Regions from separate parts of the Homo sapiens genome. Here region 2 is linked to region 1. A link means that fine-mapping ties the variant in region 1 to the expression of a gene that starts in the linked region. Tissue or cell type: lung. Region 1 holds a variant in brackets; the other region holds the start of a gene. All regions are shown on one strand. Distances are between the middles of the regions. Region 1 holds the start of LOC105374748 (a long non-coding RNA gene). Region 2 holds the start of ANXA2R-OT1 (ANXA2R overlapping transcript 1).

Region 1 (2,902 bases):
TGTGTTTAATCCGCTTGCAGTATTTTAACCCGTTTTAATGTGTTGTGACAGAAAAAGCGCCAGCTAACGGTGCTATGAAATTACTAGTGCGTACAGCGGCTCCGTGCAATCACCGTTCTGCACAGTAAAACATGGTTTAGGAAGTTCTTTAGCAGATACTAGCGGTGCGAGAACCAAGAAAGTGACAGCACAGAGAACATAAGGACCTGGCGAATGGGAAACGTCACACTGGGCGCTAAGAACGGTGCCGTAACTGAGAAAACGCTAGTCGGCTCTACTGGCAAAAGCGCTGATGCAAAACCATCAGCTCCGCATACGAAGGAGAGCCACCAGACACAACCTGGCACCTGACAGCAGGGAGACTGAGACCGAGCTCGGCTCCCCGGATCCTGAGAGAATGTAAGTAAAGAAGCAGGAAGCTGAGACGCTCAAAATTAGTAGAAAAAAAATACATAACATTTAAATAAAATCAAAATTAAAAAAATAAAGGCTAAAATGCAAGTAAACATGGAAAGCAAACACATCGGTAACATCGTTCTCAGAGCAAAAGACAAAGAGAGAATTTAAAAATAAGCAAAAATTACAGAGAACCAATCCTAGAAAGAAGAAATTACAAACCTTGCTAAAAGATGCAATCCTACAATTGTGATATCTCTGTCAGATCTAAACCGGTACATGTTACACCTAAGTCTACATTTCCTACGAAAACAAAAACAAAAACAAACAACACCAACAAAAAAAAGCAGTCACGGTTAAACCTTTTTTACTACGACTTAAAAATCGCAGTAGCTGGTCTATTCAGACTTGGTCCACAAGAGGAAAAAGTCGCGTTCGGCAGGACTTGCTATTGCCAAACGGAGCTTGGTAACCAGAAATCGCGTTTGCGGACATTTCCTGACTTCCATGGGAGTTTAAAATACACACAAGCTTAGCTAAGGTGGGACTCAATATTGCGAAAACAAACTTGGTATAAGAGCTCCCAGGCACTGCTAAACTGATCATCGGTAAACCTAAAAAAAATCGCATTCGCGGGTACCCAGATTTCTTTTTCTTTTCTTTTTTTTTTTTTTTTTTTTTTTGAGTTGGAGTCTCGCTCTGTCGCCCAAGCTGGAGTGCAGTGGCGCGATCTCGGCTCACTGCAAGCTCCGCCTCCCGGATTCACGCCATTCTCCTGCCTCAGCCTCCCGAGGAGCTGGGACTACAGGGACCCGCCACCACGCCCGGCTAATTTTTTTGTATTTTTAGTAGAGACGGGGTTTCACCGTGTTAGCCAGGATGGTCTCGATCTCCTGACCTCCTGATCCGCCCGCCTCGGCCTCCCAAAGTGCTGGGATTACAGGCGTGAGCCACCGCGCCCGGCCGGTACTCCGAAGCCCTCAGATCGGCGACCTGGGCGCTGTAGGCACCGAGAAAATACAGGCACCGAGCCAGAAGCAGTGCCGCAACCAAGAGACCTCGGCTTGGCGAAATGGCGGCGTCTGGAGCCTGCGAGTGACGCCAGCTGGTGGGGCTGTCAAGGAGAACATTCGTTACGGCGCAACCAACGGTACTGTCACCAAGAAACCGTCGTCTCTGAGAAAAAAAGAGACGTTCGGCCGCCGAGAAACTCCGTACAAGTGCTGTGACAGAAAAACCGCCGGCTCCGCGCAGCGGCAAAAGAGCCAACGGGAACGCCGGGTGCTGCGACC[A/G]TGACCCCGGCACTGGAGGACGTGGGATGGAGAATGGGACACACGGAGCGAGAAGGGAAACGTTTCGTGCAGACCAACTAGCGCCGCCGCCACCGGAAAACTGACTCGCCAGTGCTGCCAATGAAGTGCGTGTGAGAAACCGATGACTGGTGGGAGGAGCAGCGCTGGGCGCTGGACCCGCGAGTGTGAGAATCTGGCGGCGCTAGGACCCTTCAGGCGCGGGCACGAGGCGAAACCCAGCGCTGTTGCCAAAGACAAATGCGCGTTCTTTTGGGCGCCATCAGCGGTGCAGCCAGTGATCACTCCCAGGCTCTGAGAAACTAGAGATGTCAGCCACAAACCCTCCGTTCAGGGAAAGTTTGCGGCGCCGTGACGGATCGACTGGCACTGGGTGCAACATTGTCTTGTGGCCTAGAGACTAGAATATAAAAACAAAAACCAAATACAAAACTGCTGCTGGCATTACTCCTACTCTCCCCCCTCAAGTCAGTGGCTTCAGGCTTAAGAAAACCTGTATTTTTCTTGGCTGTGCCATAATCCGTAATTACCGAGGCCCCCAGCGACCCACCCAGTGTGATTCGCAGAGGGAAAGGAGCTGGAATAAGGACCGTGAATGGGGCGGATGTGGCTCGTCCTGGGAGAGAGCTAAAGCTTATGCTGGTCGCAAACAGCATTACATTGCAGGAAACTGCTCTTCCAATGGCCGTGGCTGGGTCCTTCCACACCATCCCTCTGCCCTAGACCTTTGTCCCCGTTCAGAGCCATCAGAGATTCTAGGAGAGCTGTCGACAACCGCATCTCTTCGGAACTTGGAAACTCTAGGTTCAAGATCTCCGTGGAGAATGAAAGGCACAGTCGCCTGACCCGGGCATCAGGCTTGCCCCGCACATCAAGTCCCTCCCCTACTGGATGGAACTCTGTGGCAATCGCTCCTTATTCTGATGGTTCACTCTGTCAGATATCCTCGATATTTGGGGATAGTAGTTCAAAAACAGCCGGGGAGGAAAATGGGCTGAAAGATTCCAGCGTTGGATGTAGAATTGACAGCGAGACATACACCTCCTCTCTAAGCCCAGAGAAAAGCTCAAGTTGTGGTTCTCTGTCTCTAGCAGCATGATCTTCAAAATGCATCATTGATTTCTATCTTCTGGGAAATGCAATGCAGGTGAACTTGTAAGTGCTCAAATCCTCCATCTCCTCACTTTTCAGACTGA
Region 2 (2,902 bases), 49 kb before region 1:
CACACAAACACCATATTGGAATCAGACAGAATCTGAATGCCGGAACTAGAATGCCTCCTCCTTTAGGGAAGTAAGCTCCATAACTCCTGTCCACATTCCTAACCTGGAAGAGTGACCCCTTCCCTCCAGAGGTGCTGATCCCACCATTTTTGCTAAAATAGGAAGCTAGGGTGGAAACGGAGAGAGGAATGGTGGGTGAGATATTTTGTTTTTTCAAAGGCTCTGCACAGTATCTTCAATTAGATAAAGTGGCTGTAACTTTTCTTCTATTGACACTGCCCTCTTTCCTTTATTCTACTGCCTGCAAAAGAAGGCAACTGAAGAAGCCTCAAGTACCAGGGCAGGTTTTGGCTAGCTGAAGAAAGGGTAAGGTATAGGGGGGAAGACTGGAGGTGACCATCTTGGGAGTGGGTGAGAAGTGAGAGCCCAAAATGGGTCTTCTTACCTCTCTGGTACATTCTGTGCTCTTCTCTGGTCTGACATCCGCCCAGGTTCATCCAGAAAAAGATGGAAATGATTTGAACAGGATAAGCTAGGGTGAGGATTAGACACGATGAGTTCAGCTGGAGACACTCATGGTAGAGTCTGGAGGTCTCTTTGGGGGATCACTTCCAAAAGTGCAGATTTTTAGAAAAACGAGAAAGGTTCTGGAAAGGGATGTTTTCCTTCTGCTCAATGGCAGTTTCAGGTTTCCTGTAAGAAAGGAGTTTGTAGCGTCAGTATATTTGACAAATGTGGGAGAGGGAAGATTCAAGAGCTTGAAATTGCATTGCACTTCCCAAAGATGGAGAAGACATCAGGGATGAATTTCAAAGGTGATAGAAATCGGGAACTGCCCTTTGAGGATTTCAAGGGGAGAGGGAGCAAAGGCCTCACCATCAATCCACACGTCCTGTGCTAGAGTCTTGCGATTCTTATTTCCCCTACCCTCCTGCAACGATTATTCCCATATATCAAGGCCATCTGACAGAGTTAACCATCAGAATTAAATAGCAGTTCCCACAGAGTTCCATCCCCTGGAGAGGTACCTAGCTGCCGGGGCAGGCCTGAAGCCTCGGTCAGGAGGCATTGAGTCTTTCACTCTCCACGGAGGTCTTGGACTGAGAACTTCAAGTTCCAAAGGGATGAGGTGTCGGCTTCGCCCTTAGGAGCCTGGAGGGCTCTGACCAAGGAGAAGGGCGGAGCCCAGCCACTGGAAGGTTTGTTTCTTGCAGTGGAAGACGGTTGGCGACCCGGATGGCTTTTGTTACCAGGGCCAGCCCAATCCGCCCGATTCTCGGTCCCTATACTGCCTCCTTTTCCCATGCGCATCGCAAGGGATCGGTTGATGGGGCCCTCAGTATGACTTCGCTAGGAAAAATAAAGGTCTTCTTAGGCGGGAGGGGACTGATTTGAGGACGGAGGGTGGGAGTAGTGCCAGCAGCACTTTGTCGTAGTGGCACTGGGTGGGCAGTTATCAGTTGCAGTCCGCTCGTTTCTCAGTGCCCACGGTTTCTCACTGACAGTGCAGCTCGTTTCTCAGAGCCGGCGGATGTTCATGGGCAGCACCATCGAGCCAGAAGCAGTATTTGTCCTGGTAAGTCATTTCTCAACTGCCGAAGTGTACTAGGTTCCAGTCCCGCTGGTTTCTCGAATCTGCTAGTCCCACACGAGCACCAATAGGTAAACCCAGCCGGCAGTTTCCGGCTAGCACTTTCGCTATTTGAAGACATTAGGAAGTTATGTGGTGGCTCCGTACCCTCCTTTCTCCATCCGAGGCCGGGGTCCTAAAGTCGGTGTCACGGTGGCAGCACCCAGCGTTTTGTTGGCTCTTTCGCCAGCAGCGCCGAGCGGGGGGTTTTCTGTCACAGCACTTGTTGCACCGAATTTCTCGGTCGCAGAACCTCTCTTTTCCGAGGGTCGACATTTTCTGCGTGACAACACCGTTGGTTCCGCCAAAATGGATGTTGTCCTTGGGAACTCCTCCGGCTGGCGTCACTCTTAGGGTCCCAGCACCGCCATTTCGCCAAGCCGAGTTCTCTTGGTCGCGGCACATCTTGTTCCTCGGTGCCTCCATTTTCTCGGTGGCGGCAGCGCTCTGGTAGCCGATCTGAGGGATTTGGAATCGCAGCCAGTTGCGCAGAGTCTGGGGTTCCCGGGCGACGCCGGCGCTGGGCGGGGGAGCCCGCCGCTCCTCCGAGCCAGAGGCAGAGGAGCTGCGCGGACGCCGTCTCTTCACAGCGCCGCGAGCGCCGACGCACGGGTTCCTGCTCGGCCTCCTGAACCCAGTCCCCCGGCGGCGCCGCTGGCGTCTCTATCGCAGGCCCCTGCGGTTTCGCCCGTCGTTGGCTTCTTGGTCCTAGCAAGTTTCGATTTCGCGGTGCCCGCTATTTCTACCTCTTGTCCAAATAACTAGCCAAAATGTGATTTCTCAGCCTAAGCAAGTCCCGATTTAGGGCATCGGTCTAGCCCTGGCTGCGATTTCTTGGTCCTAGGAAGTCACTGTTTAGCTGTAGCAAGGCAGACTTAACCGTGCGATGGTGACTTTTCTTTTTCTTTGGTTCTTTTTCTTTTCTCTTTCTTTCTTGATACGGGGTCCGGCTCTGTCGCCCAGGCTGGAGTGCAGTGCCGCGATCTCGGCTCACTGCAACCTCCGCCTCCCGGGCTGAAGCGATCCTCCCACCCCAGCCTCCGGGGTAGCTGGGACCACAGGCACGCGCCACCACGCCCGGGTAATTTTTTGTATCCTTCCTAGAGACAGGATTTCGCCATGTTGCCTGGGCTGGTCTCAAACTCCTGATTTCTTAGTCTGACCAAGTCAGAGTTTAGTTATTTCTTACCGTAGCAAGTTGAGAGTTATTCCAGTTTGCGATTTCTGGTTGTAACAATTCTGGCTTTAACCATGCCTACATAATTTTAGTAG

The links.
Region 2: ANXA2R-OT1 starts here. The variant in region 1 is fine-mapped to the expression of ANXA2R-OT1 in lung (TOPMed, PIP 0.92).

The regions. Positions count from the first base shown.
Region 1 is chr5:43,017,033-43,019,934 of GRCh38, reverse strand. All of the region lies in intron 2 of ANXA2R-OT1 (ANXA2R overlapping transcript 1), which reads left to right. LOC105374748 (a long non-coding RNA gene) reads right to left here and starts at 1,790. Exons shown (of 3, transcript NR_188279.1): 1 at 1,263-1,790; 2 at 619-699. RefSeq lists enhancers at 1,622-1,761, 1,301-1,823, 2,222-2,461. The variant A/G (reference allele first, on the strand shown) is at 1,689.
Region 2 is chr5:43,065,761-43,068,662 of GRCh38, reverse strand. ANXA2R-OT1 (ANXA2R overlapping transcript 1) reads left to right here and starts at 1,224. Exons shown (of 3, transcript NR_104651.1): 1 at 1,224-1,365; 2 at 1,506-1,576. LOC100132356 (a long non-coding RNA gene) reads left to right here and starts at 1,692. Exons shown (of 1, transcript NR_034127.1): 1 at 1,692-2,902. LOC100506639 (a long non-coding RNA gene) reads right to left here and starts at 1,640. Exons shown (of 3, transcript NR_102752.1): 1 at 877-1,640; 2 at 446-693. RefSeq lists an enhancer at 1,613-2,012.